Linked DNA regions of Homo sapiens: regions 1 and 2 are each linked to region 3. Evidence: fine-mapped expression QTL. A gene starts in region 3. Each other region holds a variant in brackets. All regions are shown on one strand. Distances are between the middles of the regions. Region 1 overlaps GTF2E2 (general transcription factor IIE subunit 2). Region 2 overlaps RBPMS (RNA binding protein, mRNA processing factor). Region 3 holds the start of GTF2E2 (general transcription factor IIE subunit 2).

Region 1 (8,181 bases), 26 kb after region 3:
ATCAGCCACATGGGAACTTTATAATATCTGATCTCATGCCTTGCTAATAGAATGTGTACTTCTAAAATGTTTTTCTAGTATTTATGATGGATTTTTTACTGTTCCTGGTTATGACTAATGGAATGCATTTGTGATGCAGTGGTGACATTAGGGTTTCTGCTTGTAAGAATGCAACAAAATGATAGATATTTTGAAACAAATGATCTTTTGTACAGGGTTTTCCACACCAGATAGAGAAGGAGAGGGGGGTGTTTCTCAAAGTGGGTGGGTAGTGCTGTGATGCTTTTTAAAGTAAGCATCCATGTTCATGCAGTGGCAGTGCCTGTGGCTTTTTATTCCTAATTTATCTGTAAAGTTTACTTTAAAATAATTGTGATATCTTTTTTCTATTAGTTTCCATTAATTCCTATTTTTTTGGTCTTAAATTGGTAAGCAGAAATTGATGTAAAAAGTGGTATATTGAACTTTTCTTCCCTCAGAAGTAATCCACTCCTTGTGTTAGCTTTATGGATGGGATTGAGGTTTGTATTGTTTCCTTGTTTAATAAAGTGTACTTCTGATTATGGAGCGAGTCTAATCAGAGTTAAGATAAGAATGAGATAAAGGAGAAAGGGGCCTGGTGCAGTAGCTCACACCTGTAACCCCAGCACTTTGGGAGGCTGAGATGGGTGAATCTCTTGAGTCCAGGAGTTTGAGACCAGCCTGGGCAACATGGCGAAACCCCATCTCTACAAAAAATAAAAAAATTAGCCAGGCATGGTGGTGTGCACCTGTAGTCCCAGCCTCTCAGAAGGCTGAGGTGGGAGAATCACCTGAGCCTGGGAAGTTGAGGGTGTAGTGAGCTGTGATTGTGCCATTGAACTTCAGCCTGGGCAATGGGAATGCGACCCTGTCTCAAAAAATATAATAAAAAATAATGTGATAAAGATATTTATAAAAGAATTGTGGTTTGGTGTTTTAAGTTATTTATACTTTGTTTCTACCCTTAGTGAGAAAATTGGTACTTTAATGTATATACTCAAAGATTGTGTATTTTTCACCAGAATATTACAGGGTAGAATATACTAGATGAAAAACTCAAGAAATATGTTACCAGCATTAAAATTATTTTAGCTGCTCAAGAGTCATAATCACACATAATATGACGATGTTATTTTGAACTTCATTTGCAGATCATAGCAATGGATCATTTAACTTGAAAGCTTTGTCAGGAAGCTCTGGATATAAGTTTGGTGTTCTTGCTAAGATTGTGAATTACATGAAGGTAAGTACTTTTCTCAGATAGCAAAAGTCCTATTTAACTTTTTGGCAAAAGAAGGAGATTAGGGTTTTCAGAAGTTAAATTTCTGTATACATCAAAATTTATCAAAATTGTGCATTTTCAGTATGTGCAGTTTATTGTATGCCAATTATACCTCAAGCCTTTTACATTGTATTAATTTGGCATTGTGGCGAGTTACCAAAGCATATTTAATCTGCATTAACTCAAGGGTACAGTTTAAGCTCACCATTTCACTTAATAAGAGTGTGCCTAGGCAGTAGGTATATCACCTCTTAATGAATACAGGCTGGCAAAACCAATGGGAGGATGTGATTGATTTTTCAGGTTATTACTTCCATTGATGTGAGAAGTAAAAAGTACATAGTTCAGGCAGATGATGGTGATGGCTTCTCTGCATCTTGGAGGAGAAAATTAGACATTTACTGAGAGTCTTAGAAAAACATTGACTCACAAAAGAATTAGAATTTAATGTTTGATGGAAGGTTTAGTATTTTTTGAATACAAAGTTTTGATCATATAAGATTTTGGCTTTACTTTGAATCTTTTTTTTTCCCTTTTCTTTTTTTTTGAGACAGTCTTGCTCCGTTACCCAGGCTGGAGTGCAGTGGCACGATCGTAGCTCACTGCAGCCTTGAACTCCTGTGGTCAAGTGATCCTCCTGCCTCAGCCTCCCAAGTAGCTGGGACTACAGGCATGCACCACCATGCCTGGCTAATTTTCTTATTTTTAGAAGAGACGAAGTCTCACTGTGTTGTCCAGGCTGGTCTCGAACTCCTAAGCTCATGTGATTTTCCCACCTCGGTCTCCCAAAGTGTTTGGCTTTCAGGCATGAGCCACTATGCCTGACCAAGACTTTGAATCTTAACTAAATTTATTAAAGCGGGATTTCATTTTTAGCTAAGATGGCTAAGTAATTTCAAATTTGCTCCCTTCTTTTGCCAAACTCTTATTCACGATTAGTTACTAGTTGCATCTCTTGAAAAAGACAGTACTATATTTGTTATTTTAATTTCATCCATCTATTGGTTAAAATATAAATCAGATTTTTAACTGTGCTAAGGCTTTTCTTTTGTAATTTAATAGACTTAGTGTCTAGCTGAGTCTAAATTCTGTGGTTTGTATTTGGGTTATAGTATAAATATGTTAGTATATAACTCCCCATTATTAAATAATGTATTTTGACACGTAAGTATTCACTGTTGATTCATTTCATCCATTTATTCCCCCACATGGTAAGCAGTTATGAAAATCTATTGGCTGTTTAGGGCACTAATGGTGGGAATACCCAGAAAAAAATGCCACCCTCAGGGCTGTCACTCTGTTGAGGGACACTGACATTTAAGTGTCATGTTTTTGCTACTCTGTTAATATGGTCTTCACTTCCCTATGTGGCTTACTTATAACTTTGTCTGTCTTAGAACAGTGAACTTCAGAATTTTTACTTGTGCTCCCTACAGTTTGAAAAACTGTGTACCCCTTTGTACATATTTAAGTTGATAACTACACTCTGTTAGCAAAGTTTAAATAGTGGCACTATTCAAGCAAAAATTTAAATGATGACCAGAAATACAGAATTTCTGGCATATTGTAGTATTTCAATAAAATATATCACTTTTAAATTTATCTAATGGAATCTAAATGTCATTATTTAAAAGTATAAAAACAAACTCCCTTAATGATTGGGAATTTTAATTATTTTTTCTTTGAATATTTGTGTCCCATCTGTTACTCCCTTTGAATTTTATCCAAATGTTATGTATTTTTATCTTTCAAATCATTTATTGATCATCTATCAAACTTTTCTGCCACAATAATATGTAAATAAATTGAAATATAAATCAAAATTTAAAATGTTTTTCCTATGACCGTAAAGCTCTAAGTGTTAAAAATAACTTACGGTTTGAGTTATTTTTACAATTATTGGTGCACAGTTGATTAGAATAACATACATAGATTAAAATTTTGATTAAATTCACTTTGTATCAGAAATTTATTCTTAAATGAATGCAGCTGTCTCCTCTCTTCCTTCATTAGTTCTTGTGTTTGGCAAATCTGTTCGTGTTTTGAGATTTTGTAGAATTTAAGTGCTTAGACATAAATGTTCAAATATATAAGTTAATTCTAATGGAAATTTTGTGATATCAGAATCTTCCAAGTTATATGTCAAAAATCACTAGTGATTTTATCATCAAGCATCCATTAGTTAATGCTTCTGTTAGGTCCTCCTTCAGTTTTATTGAAAGCAAAAGAATGGAAACCACCCAACTTGCCAAAGGATTTGTTACCTAGTGCTTAACCATTTATTTTCTTAGCTTCTAGGAAGCATATCAAAAAGGCTTATCAAATGTCTTATATCAGTTCCCCTCCCTCCCTTCATAGGTACTTTCTTTAAAATCTGATATATTCAGAAGCAGTTGAGAAAATAGAAATACTGTTAATTTTAATATAGCTTTGTGAATTTTTATTATAATTGTTTTATGTGTTTAAAATATATTTTTGTGAAAACTTTTAGTATGAAGGTTTAGCTTATTCAATTTTTAGAAAATATCTCCTAGTTAACAAAGCCAGTCTCCATTGTCAAACCAACTAGCCATAACAAACTTGCTTTGAATCATAAAATTTTCCTCTATTTTAAATTTCAAATAAATAGATTACCAGATATTTTGGATAATATGAAAACCACTGAGGAATAAATTATGGAATGCATACTAAAAGATACTGCTAAGGTATTTGAGCTGAAAATTATATGACTGAAAAAGAATTACAGTAATTTGTCAATTTTTGTAATAATTTAAACATTTCTGCGCTGCTTGTCATGTTAGATTAAAAATTAAATCAGTTAAAATATGAAGCAAGGGATATGATAAAAGTTGTGTTATTCCTTTATTTATTTATTTGTTTTTGAGACAGGGTCTTAACTCTGTCACCTAGGCTAGAGTGCATTGGCACCATCCTGGCTCACTGCAGCCTCGATCTCCTAGCCTCAAGTGATCCTCCCACCTCAACCTCCCAAGTAACTGGGACTACAGGCACGTGCCACCATGCCTGGCTAATTTTTGTATTTTTTTTGTAGAGACAGGGTCTCTCAGTGTTGCCCAGCTTGGTCTTGAACTCCTGGGCTCAGGGGATCCCTCAAGTGATCCGCCTGCCTCAGCCTCCTGAAGTGCTGGGATTACAGGCGTGAGCCACTAGACCTGGCCTGTTACTCCTTTTTAAATGTGTGTTCCTGCATCTTCTGATCTCTGATCTCAGCTATTAGGTATAAATAAAAGGGAATGAATCAGAAGTAACCTTACATTTTTATTTGGGTAATTAATGAAAGAGATACCTACTGCTTCAAACTACTCAGTATGACAGCTAGCATATCTTATTTTTTGTCAGTAGAAGGTAGAAATATTAAACTGTTGAAAAACTATAATGAGAATTGACTAATTAGAATAAAACTTTAATGATACGATTTGACAAAATAGATTTTAACTACCATATTGAGTAATGCACACTCAATCTAAAGTAATTTCTATACAGCTTTTATATAGCACAATTTGAATGACTTGGCAGTCCTAGAAAGTATTTCTTTTATATTTAAAGGAATCAGCCTCCCTAATTGATATTGTTCCAGCTCTCTAAATATGCTTTTTCTTCAAGCTAATAAATATTCAGGGAATGAGTTTTGAGAATTACTTATATTTAAATTCTCGGCCCAGCACAGTGGCTCACACCTGTATTCTCAGCGCTTTGGGAGGCTGAGGCAGGTGGATCACTTGAGTTTGAGACCAGCCTGGCCAACATGGTGAAACCCCGTCTCTACTAAAAATACAAAAAGAAATTAACCAGGTGTGTTG[G/T]CACATGCCTGTAACCGCAGCTACTTTAGAGGCTGAGAATCACATGAGCCTGGGAGGTGGAAGTTGCAATGAGCCAAGATTGCACCACTGTACTCCAGCCTGGGCGACACATTGAGACCTTGTCGCTAATAAAAAAATAAGAATTCTTGAAAAAAATATTTCTTTTTATCTTTTTTTTAACCAGTGTTCTCTGTGCATTACTTTTATCATACTGTCCCCTAAGAGCAATGCGTTCTTGGACAATACTGAATGGAGGTGGGGGTGTAGGGGGAATGGTTGTTAGAGGAAACTTTAAACAATTGCTCACAGATTATGATAGATTAGAATGTTCCAGCAGGGGCCAAAATATTTTAAACTCTTTGAAAAATATGTGACTGGAAAAGACAAGAAGCCCAGTAATGGATAGTTTACGGCACCTCAGTTACCATTCACGAATGCTTCCCTGAAACCATTTTTTTGGCTTGTCTGTTTGTTTGGGTCCCTGGAGTTTATTATTCCTTCAGGCTCTGCATCACAAATTCTGAATGGAGGTGAGATTACTTTTTCATGGCGGGGGGAGGTGGAAGGTAAAGAGAAGGGCTTATTTTGAAAGGGAAGAAGTACATTTGGAAGGTATCTGTAAACAGATTCTTGGAAAGTCTCCCACTGTCTTTTGTGTACCTTTAGAAAGAAAGCAAAAGAAAGGCAACAGAAATGCTCCTTATAGTTGATTCATTTAATAGGGAAACTGTTTAATTGCTTAATAAGAATGATTTAGAAACTGTGGAAAAAGTTCCAGGGGAGGCATTAGATAGGTACAGTGAGATTTATAGCAGATAGTCATAACTTTGGACAAAGTACTAAATAGAAAGATGAAAGGCAGATACAGGAACTTCAGAGTCATAATACTGAGAACATGCAGTGGAGGGGACAAACTGCCCACCTCATCTCACCAGCTCCTGAGATGGTTACTATCATACCATAGCTCAGTAATTTACGTTGGAACAGTAACTGAGACATCAAAAAAGATTAAATTATGTTCAGTGACCTGGTTAAGATGAAAGAGGAACTTTATGGTTTATTTTAGGAGGATTTTTACAGAAATGGTTAATGTAAAACAAATTTTATTGCTTAAAGGAGTAAGTTTTAAAAGCACTCCAAGTTATCTCGAAAATCCCCTTAGGATGCCTCTTTCTTCATATGAGACAGCACTTTAATTCTCAGATGACAAATTAAGTGTGTACTTTATTTTTGATAAAATGATTTTTCTCTTGATTTCAGCATTATTCCTTATGTCTCGGTTATGTAAAACACTATGTTGAAAAATCTGGGTTAATTTGGCTTATTCTAGCTTAGTGTTTCTCCAGTGTCATTCTCCAGCCAGCAGTATCAGCATCACCTGGGAACTTGTTAGAAATGCAAATTCTTGGGCCCCTTTCCAGACCTATTGAATTTGAAACTCTGGGAGTATAGCTCAACAGTCTTTTTTTTTTTTTTTTTTTTTGAGATGGAATCTTGCTCTGTCACCCAGGCTGGAGTGCAGTGGTGCGATCTTGGCTCATTGCAAGCTCTACCTCCTGGGTTCACGCCATTCTCCTGCCTTAGCCTCCCGAGGAGCTGGGACTACAGGCGCCTGCCACCACGCCTGGCTAATTTTTTTGTATTTTTTTAGTAGAGACGGGGTTTCACCGTGTTAGCCAGGATGGTCTGGATCTCCTGACCTTGTGATCTGCCCGTCTCAGCCTCCCAAAGTGCTGGGATTACAGGCGTGAGCAACAGTCTGTTTTTAAAAAAGCCCTTCAAGTGATTGTGATACATGCTGAAGTTTGAGAATCACTGGCCTAACTTCTGTCTGAATTACTTCTGACAATTATTTTTGAATTTAGAAACTCTGGAGTCCATAGACATTAAATGACTGGCTCATAGACACAGTTCTGGTCCATAGTAGGACTGGGTCAAGAATATGGATCTATTTCCAGTTTTAAATAAAAGTATTTAAATTATATGACAATATCTCTACTAAATACAGGTATAAAAATTTTTTAAAATATATGAACCAATTTAATCTGTTCAAATATAAGATATGAATATATATGTCCATAGATCTGATAATACATTGTGATGGAGTAAAGTTTAGGAATGTATGAGTGGTTAATATTTGAAAATTAATTAGTGTAAGTTATATTAACAGAATAAAGAAAAATCATGATCTCTTAGTGGATATAGAAAAAGTTGCTGGTAAAATTTTTTTTTTTTTTTTTTGAGACGGAGTCTCACTCTCTTGCCCAGGCTGGAGTGCAGTGGCACTGTCTCAGCTTACCGTAACCTCCGCCTCCCGGGTTCAAGCGATTCTCCTGCCTCAGCCTCCTAAGTAGCTGGGATTACAGGCGTGTGCCACCACACCCGGCTAATTTTTTGTATTTTTAGTAGAGATGAGGTTTCACCGTGTTAGCCAGGATGGGCTTGATCTCCTAACTTCGTGATCTGCCTGCCTCGGCCTCTCAAAATGCTGGGATTACAGGCGTGAGCCAACATGCCCAGCCTCTGGTAAAATTTAATACCAATTTATTATAAAAACTTGCAGCAAATTAGTAGAGGCAAAGTTCCTCAATGCAATAGAGCAGCCTTTCTCAATCTTCTTACTCTGGAGGAACCCTTGAAATAATTTTCAGGTCTCAGAGAACCCATGCAAAGAATTGCTATACCTCCGAGTTCACATTTATTAACCTAATCAGTAAGTTGTGGACATGATAAGTTAATAATAATTGTCAGTGCTCTTTTGACAGGAGAATATTTTTGTCTTTGCATTTATTTCGCCCAGCTTATTAGCCTGCTCTTTGTGTGTGTGGTTGCTCCCTACTCCCCAGGAAGGATCTCCACTCTTGTGCAAGTCAGTAGTATAGGCAGAGGAAACCTCAGTTTTTTTCTTTTTTAAAATTTTCTACTTGATTTCTTTTCTCACCTGATCAAAGTAGGCAACTTACTTGTTCTCAGTTGGGCAGAAGCTTGGGATAAGAAAGGAACCTTCACCCAGGTTCACATTTGTGTTGAAAGAGGGAGAAAGTACTGTTTAATTTT
Region 2 (8,181 bases), 82 kb after region 3:
CCCACTCTCCCACTCTAAGCTGCTACAAGCCCTTCTCCCTATTCTTAAAGGGATGCTGTGCCTTGATCTGCACAACCTTTCAGACTTGAACGGGGCCCTCCCCTGCTCCGTGAGCCTCGCCGTCCTGGTGCCTGGTTCTGCCATAGTAACTTTCAGGTCCTCTAGGAACCAGATATTTTTGTCCGTATAGTCTCTAAATCCTGCTCACAGGGGATGTTAGTAATTAAATGATGACTTTTACATTGCCTTGCACCAGCAAATAAAATCTGTAGTCTAAGAACAAAGCCCGGGGGGATGATTCACCAGCACCCTTGTTAGCAGTGCTGTGCTCCTCCCCCCTTTCCTTATCCACCGTCATGCTTCATAGCTTGTCACCTGTGTCTTTCTGGGGTGTGGGGTGGGCATGTGTGTTTGGTGAATTTTTAGGACTCACCTAAAGGGAAGCTTTATTGTCAATCTCTTTCCACAAATGAGTGTAATTGCAGCCCTTCATGATTTCCTATTATTGTCTCATTTGTTAATTTTTTTCATCATGTGATGCTAATATTTCAAGTATATAGAAAAGAATAGAGAATATTACAGACCTTCATGTGCTCCTCCTTTCTCAGGATTTTGCCATATTTTCTTCAGATCTTTTTAAAATCGGTAATGGTGGATACGTTTTTAAACCTGATGACAGAGACAGAGCTGAAGGGCTTCATCGTCCCTTTTGTTTGACTTAGTGCCTAGAACCATTTTGGCAGGTTTTTGTGCCTGCTCCTTCATTCCCGATGGCATCTGCATCTCAGGGGAACAAAGGCCCGGGGTCTGGTCAGGGCGTGTGCTGTGCCCCATGTGTGCTGCTGGGTGGCAGAGCAGGAGAAGGGTCCGAACCTGGCATCCTCAGCCACTGGCATCTGGGCATGCTCAGAACATCCTGGCCACACCACCCCTCAGAGCAGCTGTTGTTTCTAATTGTTTTTACCTTTTCCTTTAGGCCCCTATTCAGAGAAGGAAAAAGCCTGCTTCACAGAAAAAGCGACGCTTTAAGACTCATAACGAACACTTGGCTGGAGTGCTGAAGGATTACTCTGACATTACTTCCAGCAAATAGGGAACAGTTTTGCCCTGGAACAGAGTTACAGATACACAATCAAGAGTGTTCTTGCTGATGCTCGGGGTCTGAAGACTGTCTTCCTATCTGCTTCTTGCGGCTGAGGAGAGGAGCAGTTCAGTTTACAAAACAAGTGCAAATTACCAAACTCAAAGCTTATTTGAGTAGAATGGGCTCATGGGCAATGTGATGTTCCCTGTTAACCTTCTGTTACTCCCTGGGAGAAAGGCGCTGAGCGTGGCATGCAGGTGTCTTTGCTGTGTTTTTCTCCACTTCTAAATGGTTCCTGGTTCCTTTCTTCCTCGTTTGTTACTTTAGAGCAAGTTTGCCCATAGTCTTGAATGCAATATTTGTTTATTCCAAAAGAACATATTTATAATAAAATCACTGTAGAAGGATTTTTAAGATGTTAGTGAATTCTGTTTCTTTTCATTCTCGGAAATGGCAGGAAGCAGCTCCAGTCTCTGATTTCCATGGGTCACGTGCTGGGGATGTGATGAAGCCTGCAGTCTGCACTGTGTTGCTGAGCACATGGATTTCACCACTGGAACACAGGTGTGCTGCTTGTTAGCAAGCAGAGCAATAAAGATGTGCTGGATGTCATTGTTAATGTTTTCTTTTAAAAAGAAGCGTCAGTGTCAGCCGGGCAAGCTGGCTCACGCCTGTAATCCCAGCACTTTGGGAGGCTGAGGCAGGTGGATCACGAGGTTAAAAGATCGAGACCATCCCGGCCAACATGGTGAAACCCTGTCTCTACTAAAAATATAAAAATTAGCTGGGCGTTGGGGCATGTGCCTGTACTCCTAGCTACTTGGGAGGCTGAGGCAGGAGAATCACTTGAACCCGGGAGGCGGAGGTTGCAGTGAGCTGAGATCGTGCCACTGCACTCCAGCCTGGTGACAGAACGAGACTCCGTCTTAAAAAAAAAAAAAAAGTATCAGTGTCCAGCTTCTTGGGTTTGGTAAATTCCAGGATGGCAAGCCTTTGTAGTGTCTCCTCGTCAACCTGAACGTCAGCTATACCATGCCTCCACCCTCATGTGGCCTGACCGGAGATGGTTCTGGTGGAGATGCCCTCTGTCACCGGCCCAGCTCATGAGAGCCATTACCAAATATGTGAGTGTTCTTTAGAGTGAGGGTGACTCACGGGAAATTCACATGGTTCTGCTTTCTACGGCAAAGTTTGCATTTTCCTCACCTGCACTGTTTATGTTCTGCTGTGGTCCTTTGTGCTGGTGGTCATGGTCCTCCCGTCACAGCATGGGATAGTAGTGGATTAGGAAACGAGGTGTTGGTTCTCAGAAAAGGCATGATGGAAACCCAGAGCAGGAAGTGCTTTGTGCAGACGACAAAGAACCTTTTTTTGCTTTTTCAGTTGTTTTCTCTTTTCTACTTACCTCTCATCCCTTTACAGTGTTATCTGTTTGCTTTACCTCTTTCTTACCTCCAAGCCCCAAAACATGGCAGGAGAGGATGTAACTGAGGTTCCCACGATAATTTAGAACACAGGAAATACAGCCTGTCTTGCTTTGTATAAGGTTTTTTTCTGGTAAGGAAGAGCTTTAATATCTTATGGCATGAAACTAGCTTTCCTGTAAAAAATCTAGAGTTAGCTTATCTCCAGGTAGGTACCTACTTTTGTGATCTCCACACTCCATCTTATTTTATGGGCCAGGTCTGGAAGTACAGTTTGGACATCTCATCTGCTTTGCAGGGAGATGGGCATCAGGGCCTCCGTCGTGGGCTCTGTGATCAGGTTCTCCATCTCTGTGATAAGGCGCTTACTGCCAGTTGTGTTATTGGTTGTGACTTCTAGCAATGCCTGTGCTCAGCAGTACTTCGTGGGCTGGCCTGATAATTGATTTCAGTTATTTTGTCTAAAATTCATTTCAGAAATGAAGATCTAGCAAAATGAAGTGACTCACTAAATTGCTGTACTCAACAAAATTCCGTAGCTTTATCTCATTCACTTGCAGTTTCTTTTGTTAAGCCTCGACCCACTCAGTCTACTACATGTAAGAGCAAATCCTCCATATACCCCATCTCAAGGTACTGGGGTTGCATCATCGGGTGACATGTTGAGGATACAGTGTTTGTGGGAACACTGATGGAAGGTTACTTGTGTTGGACGGTCATATTACAGGCACACCTCATTTTATTGTACTTGCTTTATGTGTTTTCACAGATACAGTGGAGTTTCTTTTCCATATTGAAGGTTTGTGGGAACCCTGCTTCAAGCAGATCTGTTGGTGCCGTTTTTCCAACAGCATGTGCTCACTTTTTGGCAATAATATATTTTAAATTAAAGTATATAATTGGATTCTTTAAGACATAATGCTATTGCTCACTTTCTACTATCATGTAGCATAAACATTTTAATATGCACTGGGAAACCAAAACATTTGTGTGACCCACTTTACTGTGATATTTGCTTTATTGCGATGGCCTGGAACCAAGTCTGCAGCATCTCCGAGGGATGCTATACAGAGAAGCTGTCTCTTCGCAGTTCTTCTGGGTGTCTGAAAACATATCCACCAGAAACACCAAGTTGAAGTCATGTTCTCGCCTCTGCCCGTTTCTGGTG[G/C]CTCTGCTGGCCATTTAGAAGCACGTGGGAATGGCACGGCTCGGTGAGTTAAGAGGGTATGACAGTCGGGAGTGCATTTGATCTATAATTCATCACCATGATGTGAGGCTTTTAGGGGATAGCTAAGGGAAATGTAGTCAAGCCTGGACAGAGTGTAAAAACCGAACATTTGGCTGCTGCTGTCACAGCCTGTAAATGTGGCCAGATGATGGTGGGACCCAGGGGACAGAGTGGCACTTGACACCTGTTGAGCAGAGGCTTAGTGGAAAGGCAGCGCAGGACATCCCGTTCCTTCCAGCCCCAGCGTTCAAGGGACTGCGAGTGGACAGCCCTGTCTTTATCTGTGAGCCGTTTGAAATCTGTAGCAGTAGAATGGGATTGTCAGTGTGGACGGTTTTGTGGGATGAGGGCATTTGGTTTATCAGTTCCCTGATTCTTAGTTAATAGTGATTTTCTGAGGCATAGAGGATGAGACTCAGTGTCTCTTCCCTGTAGCCACGGGTTTTACTTTCAGATGACTCATTTGTGGGGAGGATTTGGGGTTTTCTAAGGTTTGGTTGACTGTTGACAAGCTCAGCCTGGTGCCGCGCCTTCTGCAGCGAGGCGGAGCAGCCCTCCTGGACCTTCCTGCAGGTTCGAGGTCTCTCAGGGTGGTTTTTGTGGGCTTGTCCTGAGAGATGAGAAGGTGTTCTGTGGGAGTTGTGGTGGGATGGTCCAAGGACCTCTTGGAAACCATTTTTCAGACTAACTGGACCGTAGAACACCCATCCCTGTCCTGTCTGGAGTGTTGGGGGAAGCACCGCTGGAAACTCAAAGAGCTAGACGGCCCTGGCTGGCGCTGTACGGTTGGCCCCCCTCTGGCTGCAGTGTAAAGAACGACAGTGCATTTTGCTTCCCTGGATTTCCATTAGAAATAAATGTGGATCCTGCTCTTCAGCAGATGGGGAGGGGACTAATCCAACTCCACTGGTTGGGGATGGGACCAGCACATTTGTGTGACTTAACCATGTGGTTCTGAGACCCTGGTGAAAGCCCAGTGACTTTTCATCTGGCCACAACTTCGTGGGGCTTGCATGTCAAGGGAGAAAAGGCAAAGACTTTCCTTTAAAGAAAACACAGAAGGGTGCCAGCAGGGGATAACTGAGTGAACCATATCCTGATTTAGGCGGGACCAGCTCTAGAAGCGCCAAGAGCAGGTTTGTCCCGTGGGTGGTGATTGTGAGGTTTTGAAGTGCCTGCTAAGCCCCCACGCCAAAGCTTATGTTGTAGTTTTAAAAAGTGCTCTTTTGTCCAGGTAAATCTTTTATTTAACTCGTGCATCATTTCTCATTGCATTTAGGCCTTCCTTTTTGCTCAGAAGAGAAGTTTGGGTTGACTTTAAGCATTTGGCCCAAGTTCCTAACTTGGAATTAACGACCATGGGCAGAGTTCCACGTGAATTTCTCAACTGGACAAGTGGAACACAAGGACCCGAATTTTCTCTTCCCCTCAGATCGTCCATAGGTGAGATGTATGTGAACAGTGGTGGAGAATGGAAGCCTTCACTGTTTTGTTTATGTTTACCAGCAAATTATTACGGTTTGTAGGAAGAGCTCCCTCCTCCCTCGCCCCCCAAATAGGAATGAGTTTGAACTGAGGGTCAGGAAGAGGTAAGTGGCAGGTTCGTTGGAGAGCTGCAGAGGGGCCTAGTTCTCACAGCACACTGGCATCTCTCAGGATTGGGTAGCTATGGAGCCAGGCCAGTTCACACAAGAGTTAATATTAGTTCCATCTGGGATGTTCTACAGCAGGGACAGATAGCTTTACAGTGGCAGTTATTGAAATTTCCTAATTTAGTGCTCTTGATCAAATTGCTGACAACATACAGTTTTTCATTATCATAGTTATTAGAGTTTTAGGAGAGGCATTTATTGAGGATGAGTGTTTTAAATAACACCTCACTGGTAATGAATATTCTTAGGTTTTCTATGCAGGCTGTAAAGTTGTTTTATGCCATGAGGTTTTATGCCATGAGGGTGTGGAGAGAATGGTTTAAGAGTTGGAGAGGAGAGCAACTGTGTGCCAGAACCTTCCATCTGGGTGGGTGAGAGTGCTTTTGGGAACCTGTCCATATTCTTAGCACAGATCATGTCTTGCCCAAAGCGCTCAGAAACAACTAGTTGAATTTGGACATGGTGGCACGCGCCTATAGTCCCAGCTACTCAGGAGGCTGAGGCAGGAGGATGGCTTGAGTCCAGGAGTTCGAGGCTGCAAGTGAGCTGTGAATCTGCCACTGCACTCCAGTCTGGAGACCCCGTCCCTTAAAAAAAACCTTACTTCTTTATGTCATCTTGACAGACACCAAGAATTCTTGTGTATTGGAACGCAGAATTCAGGGATGGGGCAATAACAATTGCAAGCTAGTCCATGAAAGTAGGGTGGAGACATGTGCATGCCCTGGGTCCAGCTGAGTCTGAAGCCCAGGTGTGATTAATTGGCAATGTAGCGTTCACTTTGTGAACTGCAAGGTTCTTTTCACATTCCTTTAATTTGTAATTTTGTTATAGACGTGGAAAGCATGGTATTTAATTTCAGATGCCACTTTTATAGTTATATCAGTTCGACATTAACAAGGGTTCATTTGGTAATCACACAAAAAGATGGGCTTAGTTACCATCTTTCTGGAGCCTACAAATTGGGACATTTTGCATGGGAGCAAGAGCAAACAGCCTGCCTTTTTCGTATTCCAAGTTCTTGATTCCAGAAGACATACTGCATTCCTTCCTGTTCAATAGAGTGACAAAAAGGGTAACTTCGCACAGACCCTAATGAAGCTGGTATCTGGCTGGTGAGTGGAAATATATCTGGAGGTCACACTAGATTAGTAAATACCATCCAGACTTGTCACTTGCACATCATGAATGACTATCATCAGCATGGGGAAGATTGGGGTGCTCATCCATCCCAGGGCCCCCTGTAAAAAATCATAGGTGACTGTGTTCAGCCAGTGACTGGCTGGGATGGAGTCCGGGCAGTCCCGAGGCAGCAAAACCCCTTAAGAGCTCACTAGCCTCCATTCCTTAGCTGTTTGGCCAATCTCTGGTGCCTATGAGTTGGAGCTCACAGGTGGACCAAAGGCAGATCAGGCGGGCCTGAGAGCCATGCTGGCGTGGCCTTCTAAGCCTGGGCCCAGGAAAGCGTTTGGCCTCTACAGTTACGTAAGTTGGAAGGCAGTGGACACAACCTACGTTTGGTGGCTAGGCTCTTCTGCAGGCAGGCTGTGAGAGCTTCACTGCGGGTCATCTCAGTACCCAGCAAGACTCAGTAGTGGTTGTTGCCACTGCTTGGATGTTTTTTTTTTTTTTTTGCTTTCTTTCTCCTTTGGGGGGAAAAAAGAGTAGGTGAGAGTATATATAAAACACGATTCTCTTGGCAATTGGTGCCTGGTTTTCCACTTTTTTTTTTTTTTTAATTTTTTATGGTTTTGGAGTCAGGGTCTTGCCCTGTTGCCGAGGCTTCAGTGCAGTGGAGCAGTCATGGCTCACTGCAGCCTCGACCTCTTGGGCTCAAGTTGTCTTTCCTCTGTGGTCCCCCGAGTAGCTAGGACCACAGGTGCTAGTACTCCTGGCTAATGTTAAAATTGAGGGTCTTGCTGTGTTGTCCAGGCTGGTCTCAAACTCCTGGGATCAAGCAAGCCTCCTGCCTCAGTTTCCCAGTGTTGGGATTACAGGTGTGAGCCACCATGCCTGGCGTAAGATATATTTAAGTCAGCAGAAAACCCAAGTGACATTTTAATATAATTCAGATAATCCTGAGTCAAGCTTTGTAGGCTGAGGTAGATGAGGGGCCTCCCTTGAGGTCCCTCTGCCTCTGGTGTCATTGTGGGTCACCAGCCACTGTGGTTGTGCGTTTGCAGACTTACTCTCTGGCTTTCCCCGGTATCTGCTTCCTCCTTTAATCTCTTTGTGCCTAAGCTCAATGGCCAATGCTTGCTTAGCTCTGCCGAAGCCTGACAATGGGAATGAAATCTGCTGGCGTCTTGTCTGCAGTGTGGGATACATGTAGTTGGTCTTGCTAAAAAAGAATTTGTCAAGCAATGGTGTGACAGCTGGAATAAGCACTTTATTTTTTAAAAATGACAATAGAAAAGTACCTTTAAACAGTTATAAAAGCATAATAGACTGCAGAAGTGGCTATTTTCCTTAGGAGTACAGTCATCTCACCAAGAGCCGATTGGCACTGAGGGCATAAGCAGGTCCTTGAACACCAAAGTGGATCCGTCACAAGTCCTTGAGCTAACTGCCTTTTCCCCTTATTTACGGTAAGAAAGAGCCCCTCACTCCTGGCCTTGGTTTTTTGTGTTGACCTTTAAAAGCTTCTTGACATCTTTATATTTCTAATGGAAAATAACAAAACAAAAACCCAAACCAACCAGGTAATCATGACATTGAAATTTTCAACATAAGCCGAGCGGATCAATAGGAAAGACTGTGTTTGGCAGCTGAATTTAGGTCAGTGTGGTTTTA
Region 3 (8,181 bases):
GGCGCAGTGGCTCACGCCTGTAATTGCAGCACTTTGGGAGGCCAAGGCAGGCAGATCACTTGAGGTCAGGAGTTCAAGACCAGCCTGGCCAACATGGTGAAACCCCGTCTCTACTAAAAATACAAAAATTAGCCAGGTGTGGTAGTGCGCACCTGTAATTCCAGCTACTCAGGAGGCTGAGACAGGAGAATTGCTTGAACCTGTGAGGTGGAGGTTGCAGAGAGCTGAGAACGTGCTATTGCACTCCAGTCTGGGTGACAGAGTGAGACTGTGTCTTAAATGATAAATAAATACATCCCTCTCTAACTCTGTCTCTATTTCTTTTTTTTCCTCTCTCGGTCTCTCTCTCCTTCTGTCTACACACACGCACACACACATATCCTATTTGCTATTTCTCTGGAAAACTCTAATACACTGATGTAGCAAAAATCATGAAATACATAAATGTTATGAGAAATTATTTTCTTTATTATGATAATTATTATGGAAGTTGATCATAAACACCTAGTATTGCATGCTAAGATATGACGGTTATCAAAGAGAAAACTTGAAAGAAAGTTTGAATTATGGAACGACTTCTTATTTGTTTCTGCAAGGTAAGAAGCTAGTTTGGTCCCAACTTTTTAAAGATGTGAGTTCACTCTTTGCTCACTCATGTGTTCGAGGTAGGCTACTCCCTCCCCATCTCCAGAAAGGTGAATCAAAATTTGTTTCAGGTTGTCACGGTAGTTTCTTTCCCTTTCATGGGGATTGATTGGTTTAGATGAGGTATGTGACTCCATCCTGGCCAATAACTACCTGGGGAAAGTCTACATATGTGTGTGTGTGTGTGTGTGTGTGTGTGAGAGAGAGAGAGAGAGTGTGTGTGTGTGTGTGCAGTGATGGGGTTTGGCTCTCTGTTAGAGGTTTTTTGCTTTCTTTTTTGAGATGGAGTCTTGCTCTGTCACCCAGGCTGGAGTGTAGGGGCACGATCTCGGCTCACTGCAACCTCTGACTCCCCGGTTCAAGTGATTCTCCTGCCTCACCCTCCTGAGTAGCTGGGATTACAGGTGCCCGCCACCACACACTAATTTTTGTATTTTTTAGTAGAGACGGAGTTTCACCATGTTGGCCAGCCTGGTCTTGAACTCCTGACCTCAAGTGATCCGCCTGCCTCGGCCTCCCAAAGTGCTGGGATTACAGGCATGAGCCACCACGGCCGGCCAGAGGTACTTTCAATTTTTCATCTGCCAGGCAGAAAAATGGGGGTGAGGGGTTGCAAAGGGAGCAGCCTCTGGTCCTTTTGTTACTTGGGTGTGGAAAATTAGGGTTTTCCTTTTGATTTAGCTCTTTCTAGGGAGTCAGCGTGAATTGGCCTTAGGTTCTCTGCTTCCAGACCCTATTCTCCTGCCTCAGAATGAATGAAGCCATTGCTTTCAGTGTTAAGACCTAGACACATGCAACAGGCAGTATAAGCAGGAGTTTGTAATGTAATAAGGTTTCCTGGGGTTTGTATGAGAGGGTTTCAATGATATTAATAACAAGAGCTAACTTCTGGGTAAAGGGGACACAATTGAGATTTGAGAGTCTGGATTATAGATAGTACATTCTGATATTATTAGTAGCTTAGCTGTTTCAACTGGCTGAAATGAGTCAAGATATTGACATGAAATTACTCACTGTAAGCGTTTATTGAGCACCTTCTTTGTGAAAGATTTAATTCTGTAAAGATTCTCTAATTGTTAGATTTCTAAGTCTCAAGGGAAGAGATAGTGAATATGTGTCAAAGTTTTATTTAACGCAAGAAATGTAGACCTGCCAAGTGAGAACAGAGACTATTCAGAGCTTGCTATAGCAATAGGGGCAGCGACCACACTTGAGTTTGGCAGAGACTCAAAAGCAATCGGGAAGAGGGGAGACTTTACAGTGGAGGAAAAAAGGGATGCTTCTGATGTGTTCTGATTTAGGGATGTTGGCAGGGGAAGCTGGAAGTTGTCTAACTTGAAGCAGGAAACTTAACAGGATTGGTTTGGGAAGAATATTTGGCTTTCTCTGGCTGATACTGGTGTCTGAGGACAGAGAGGTTAAAATAGAAAAGTTGGCAGCCTTCTTGAGAAAATTCTGACCATTTTGAGCTGATTGCTGTAGAGGTTATGGTTTGGCTTATGTGAGTTAGAGTGTTATTATCATATGCGGTTTAGCCATTGTCCATATGTATAAGTCTCTCACTCATTAATAAGGGAGCCAGCAGAATCATAAAACGGATTTCTACCAGTTCTGAAAAATGATATTTATATAATCGTTGGGGAAAGGAATGCTGAAATAAAACTGCTCAGTTGATACAAAACCGGTTAATTTTTCTCAGAAAAATGCAACCTTAACCTTTGGAATTTTATCTATCTATCTATCTATCTATCTATCTATCTATCTATCTATCTATCTATATACACACTGAATTCCCTGCCCCTTTTTCCCCTAACACCTCATCAGTTTCCTACCAATTGATGTTTGATTTCATCCTTTTGTAAATCTTCTGGGCCCTAATCAATTGTTATTCAAACAAAGTTACATTTCCTGTGGGTGTCAGATGATCAAGTAGGCTTATTACAAAATTCTCTAGAATGAAACTAATAAAAGTCACAAAATATTATCTTTTGACTTTTTTCCAAGTTTTGAATAAAATTTTAGGTATTTTCTCACTTAATTTTCACCACAGTCCAATGCAAGTAACTCATTGTAGTAGTACAATGATTATCCCCATTTCCCCGATGAGAAAACTGAGCCACAGTTTCAGTAACTTGAAGAGTAACCAGTAATTCAACGACAGCCACAGAATGGCTGAGCACTGGCTGTACTGCCGCTTTAGGTTATAAGAGTGAGGGAAGGCCTGCCACGCTGCAGGTTTCGGGCAATGAAATTATTTTTTCCACTGCTTTATTTCCACCCATTTATCTGGCTTCTAAATCCAAAATCCTTTTCTAAGACAGTTCACAGGGGTGGAGGGAAGAGGCTGGGCTGTGCTCCACATCAGGCTGCCTTTGCTAGCTGTGTTGTCTTGAGCAAGTCATTTATTAATTAGCTTCCTGGCCCTCTGTTCTTCGCTTGTAAAAGAGCTGGAACCGCGTTCTCGGTGTGCAGGTGCTGGTGTGTGGCGCTGGGGTAAACTCACAAAATAACCGTTGAGGCCGGGCGCGGTGGCTCACGCCTGTAATCCCAGCACTTTGGGAAGACGAGGCGGGCAAATCGCTTGAATTCAGGAGTTCGAGACCAGCCTGGGCAACATTGTGAGACCCTATTAATACAAACAACAACAACAATAATAACCAAAAATAGTCCGTCGTGGTGGCACTCGCCTGTGATCCCAGCTACTCCGGAGGCTGAGGTGGGAGAATGGCTTGAGCCCAGGAGCGGAGGTTGCAGTGAGCCGAGATCGCGCCACTGCCCTCCAGCCTGGGTGACCGAGTGAGATCACGTCTCTAATAAGAAAAAGACAAAAAACACAAAGTAACCATTGAAAGATAGCGTCGTCGGCTGGGTTCACCACATCCCAGCGCACGCCGGAGCAGGCTGTAGCAGTTTTAATAAAGTGTCTATAAAGAAAGCTGCCTTCCATCTTCAGTGGCGCCGCCTCCCACTTCAGTCCCCTTCTCGGCCCCACCCCAGCCCTTCCCTCGTTGTCATGGAGGCCCCAGGACGCCAGAGCGGGATAGTTCCGCTCCCGCGGCACCAGAGGCGGGGCACGCAATGACGCATGCGCTCGCTTGGCTGCCCTGGCGCCGCGGTGGCTGCCGGGACTGAGCTCCTAGCACCCGATCGGGAAGTGGCGGGCGGAGTCCCGGGTCCAGTCGCCGCCTCAGCTACCGCCGCTGCCGCCGCCGCCGCCGCCACCGCCAGTGGTGAGACCCCGACCTGGCGGGTCAGCGCTGGGCGTGCGTGCGGGCAGGCGGGGGCGCTGACGAGAAGCAGGAAGAGGGTGCAGTGCCGGCGTGGGCGGCCGGCCGAGGCGGAGGCGCAGGAAGGGGGCGGCGAGTCGTGCGAGGCTGCCCTTCTCACTCAGGTAGGGGCTGCGGCCGCCGGGTGTGGGGCGCAGAGCCCCGGCTTGCTGTTCCCTGGGACGCAGGCGCGCCGCCGCCTCCCGGGAGGCTGAGCGTGACCTCCACCTCACGGGAAGCTGGGACCGCCGTTCTCGAAGCGAAACACCCAGCACGCGAACCGTTCCCCGGAGCATTGTCTTTAGGCCAGAGGTTCATTGAGCAAACTTTTGGGTTGGAAAGAGGGAAAATTCGCGGTCTGCCGCCTGACTGTGCCTCTTCCAAGCCTCCAAGTTCACGGGCGCGGTAGCCAAGCGAACCGTGTGTGGAGTTTGAGCAGCCGCGGGGTCCAGCCAGCTCAAGACTGTGATTTAAAATGATGCTCATACGCGGACTGCTTTCTAGGCTACCTTTTGGAGATTTGGTTTGTGATGATCCCTAAACTTTAACGATAGTAGTTGATTTCTGCAGTCTAAACAACGCTGCGGCCCCCTTTTCGCCCACCTCCCCACTTCCGTCATTTAAGGGCGAAGCAGCCTGCTTTTCATAGCCGGGTCCTGAGGTGCCAGGGACACTAACGAGGCTGGGTAAAAGTGAAAGAGAGGGGAAGTAGTAAGGTTGAAAGAGGTCGAATGGTGGCAAGAATCGTGGGCTTGGAGGCAGATTTCAGTTTAATTTTTGGGTTTTCCGTGTCTGCCCACGGAGGAACCAGCCAACTCCTTGAGTTGTGGTTTTGTTTAATTGTAAAATGGACATGGTGATGTAGCCTGTTTACTCCATAGGGGGGTCCAGAGATCTAAAACTTAGTACACATATTGGGTAGTCTTTGAAAAAGGAGGAAAAGTTAGGCGGAGCACGTGATGGTGAAAGACAGACATTGCGAAGCTTTCTGCTCTAGATGCCTTTGAACGTTCCCGAACCTCACAGGTGGCCTTTGTTTTAAAGGCCTTTACCAGCGTTCCAGGTCTGGTGTAAGGAGCACTTGAGTTAGGAGTCAGGAGGTTTGGTTCCTGGCCCTGGCTCTTCCATCTGTGCGACCTTAACCAGACAGCTTCACTTCAGATTTCACGTATTAAAATAGGAATAACACTAATACCTGTTTGCTCCTAGAGTTGCGAGGGTCAAATACTGTAAGCATTTAGTTTGTTGTAAACTGTACGGCTTTATTTACTTTTTTTTTTTTTTTTTTCTGAGACGGAGTCTCGCACTGTCGCCCGGGCTGGAGTGCAGTGGCGCGATCTTGGCTTACTGCAAGCTCCACGTCCCTGGTTCAAGCGATTCTCCTGCCTCAGCCTCCCAAGTAGTTGGGATTACAGGCACCCGCAACGACACCCTGCACATTTTTTAAATTTTTAATGGAGACGGAGTTTCACCATGTTGGCCAGACTCGTCTAGAACTCCTGACCTCGTGATCCGCCCTCCTCGGCCTCCCAAAGTGCTGGGATTACAGGCGTGAGCCGCTGCGCCCGGCCTATTTAAATCTTTTAGAGTAATTTTTTTAAAGTCCAGATTGAGGTCCTGCCTTTGCAACGTGAAATAAGACACAAATGTTTCCTGTTCTAGAAATTTACTTTTTGCTCCCACCTTCTCACTTGACAATTCTCCTTTCTTCTTCTTGGCCCCACGCTTTCCCTCCTCCCAAGGCTGTCTCCTACTTTCCTCAGCCCGGTAAATCATTCCCTTCTTTCAGATCCAACTCAAAATAGTAATACTGAAATAACACGTTTTTATGACTTTACTGTTTAAAAAATAACATACACATTTTCTCATTCTTACAATTGGGCTGGATGTGGACAGCTTTCATAGCGTCCTCATTTCACTTATGAAATTGAATGTAGAGGCCTTGTGGGTTGCCTAGCCAGGTGGCTTTAGGAATTGAAACTGAGGCCGGGTGCGGTGACTCACGCCTGTAATCTAAGCACTTTGGGAGGCTGAGGTGGGCGGATCACTTGAGGTCAGGAGTTCAAGATCAGCTTGGCCAACATGGTGAATGAACCCCGTCTCTACTAAAAATACAGACATTGGCGGGGCGTGGTGCTGCGCGCCTGTAGTCCCAGCTACTCGGGAGGCTGAGCCAGGAGAATCGCTTGAGCCCAGGAGGCGGAGGTTGCATTGAGCCGAGATTGCACCACTGCACTCTGCCAGCCTGGGCGGCAGAGCGAGACTCTGTCTCAAAAAAAAAGAAAAAAAAATTGAAACTGAGAGAAGGCAGGTTTTTGATTCACCGTCCAGTGATTGTTCACGCCTTAATTGAAATTCAGTCTGATTATTTCTTATCAATGCTTATATTTAAAATTTTTAGCTCAATGCTTCCATTTTCTCAAATCTAAGCAGCATGTAGACAAGGATTTATCTTCCGTAACCTTTCAAAGCTTAGAGCACAGTGCCTCACAAACAAGATATTTAATAAAGGCTTGTGAAACCAGTAATAATGGGACCAGAGCAATTTAAAGATGATGTTCCATGTGTTGTTCATTTAACAAATATTTATTGAGCTATCTGTGCTTAAAAGCTTTCAAAGTATGAGTCTTTTTCCTCCCAGCTGACACTAGTCTTAACAGTGTCAAATTCATTTATATAGTCAGCTTGAGGTCTTCATAGACCCTCTGTAGGGTTCTAGCAGAGTTCAGAAGAGAGGTGTGTTTAGAATTCTTGTTGGTTGACCTGTAGCTTCCCTGGTTGTAGTGAAATTGCTTTGAGTTGTAATTTTAGAACTAGACAAACAACAACCACAACATAGAAGTTGCCTCAAACCACCTCCCTCCAAATTGGAAATTTTCTGTAGACTTTTTTTTTTTTTTTGAGACAGAGTTTTGCTGTATCCCCCAGGCTGGAGGGCAGTGGCGGGATCTCAGCTTACTGCAACCTCTGCTGGACTCAAACAGTTCTCGTGTCTCAGCGTTCTGAGTAGCCCGGACTACACGTATGTGTCACTATGACTGGCTAATTTCGTAGAGATAGGGTTTCACTATGTTGCCCAGGCTGGTCTCTCAGCCTCCCAAAGTGCTGGGATTACAGACATGAGCCACTGTGCCCGGCTCTCTGTAGACATTTCTAACAAATAGTATAATAATTCAGCCTCTTCATCACTTAATAATTGAGAGTTCACCAGTTGTAAAAATATGCCATTTTATGTATAAGCAGTTCTGATGGTTCTCTTTTTTTGCAGTGAGCCTAAATCCACCTTCTTCTAATTTCTGCCCTGTAGTCCTCATGTTTCTACAGCAGTGTTGTCCAATAGAAATATAATGGGAGTGGGAAGTGTGAGCCACACGTGTAATTAAAAATATTCTAGGCTGGGTGCAGTGGCTCATGTTTGTAATCCTAGTGCTTTGGGAGACTGAGGTAGGAGGATTGCTTGAGGCCAGGAGTTCAAGACCAGCCTGGGCAACATAGCAAGACCTTGTCTCTAAAAAGTTTTTAAAAAAATTAACTGTGTGTGGTGGCGTGTACCTGTAGTACTAGCTAGTCAGGAGGCTGAGGTGGGAGGATTGCTTGAGCCCAGGAGTTCAAGGCTACATTGAGCTATGATCACACCACTGTACTCCAGCCTGGGCAACACAGTGAGACACTGTCTCTTAATTTTTTTTTAATAGCCATATTTTAAAAGAAAAATTGGTGAAATTAATTTTAACATTTTATTTAACCCAGTATATTCAAAATAGTATCACTTCAACATGTAATTAATGTAAAATATCTCGTTAGTAATTAAATAGTTTTTTTCTTTATACTAAATCTTTGAAATCTTGTGGGTTTTTACACTTGAAAGTCCATCTCAATTTTAACTAGCCACATTTCACATGTTTAATAGGCACATGTGGCTAGTGGCTAATATATTGGACAGCACAGTTCTGGAACTTTAGGGAATAATTCTGTTTCTTTTCTTTCTTTCTTTTTTTTTTTTTTTTTTGAACAAGGGTCTTGGTCTGTCACCCAGGCTAGAGTGCAGTGGCATTATCACAGCTCACTGCAGCCTTGACCTTCCAGGCTGAAGTGATCCTCCCACTTCCGCCTCCCGAGTAGCTGGGACTGTAAGCACACATCACCATGCCTGCCTGATTTTTTGTATTTTTGTAGACAGGAGGTATTACCATGTTGTCCAGGCTGGTCTCCAACTCCTGGGCTCAGGCAGTCTGCCCACCTCGGCTTCCCAAAGTGCTTCAGCCACTAT

What was found. PIP is the estimated chance that this variant, and not a neighbour inherited with it, causes the effect.
Region 1: its variant is fine-mapped to the expression of GTF2E2 in whole blood (TOPMed, PIP above 0.99).
Region 2: its variant is fine-mapped to the expression of GTF2E2 in whole blood (TOPMed, PIP 0.97).

Annotation. Positions count from the first base shown.
Region 1 is chr8:30,628,115-30,636,295 of GRCh38, reverse strand. It overlaps GTF2E2 (general transcription factor IIE subunit 2), which reads left to right. Exons shown (of 8, transcript NM_002095.6): 3 at 1,173-1,264. Among named protein-coding and RNA genes, the nearest start is that of SMIM18, 6.4 kb to the left of the region's middle. RefSeq lists an enhancer at 5,894-5,953. The variant G/T (reference allele first, on the strand shown) is at 5,125.
Region 2 is chr8:30,571,833-30,580,013 of GRCh38, reverse strand. RBPMS (RNA binding protein, mRNA processing factor) reads right to left here. Exons shown (of 9, transcript NM_001008710.3): 9 at 7,758-8,181. It overlaps GTF2E2 (general transcription factor IIE subunit 2), which reads left to right. Exons shown (of 8, transcript NM_002095.6): 8 at 977-1,696. The coding sequence ends at 1,093. Among named protein-coding and RNA genes, the nearest start is that of SMIM18, 63 kb to the left of the region's middle. RefSeq lists a silencer at 4,212-4,261. The variant G/C (reference allele first, on the strand shown) is at 3,677.
Region 3 is chr8:30,653,828-30,662,008 of GRCh38, reverse strand. It overlaps GTF2E2 (general transcription factor IIE subunit 2), which reads left to right and starts at 3,773. Exons shown (of 8, transcript NM_002095.6): 1 at 3,773-4,036. RefSeq lists enhancers at 3,230-3,901, 4,573-5,244 and silencers at 3,679-4,088, 4,099-4,188.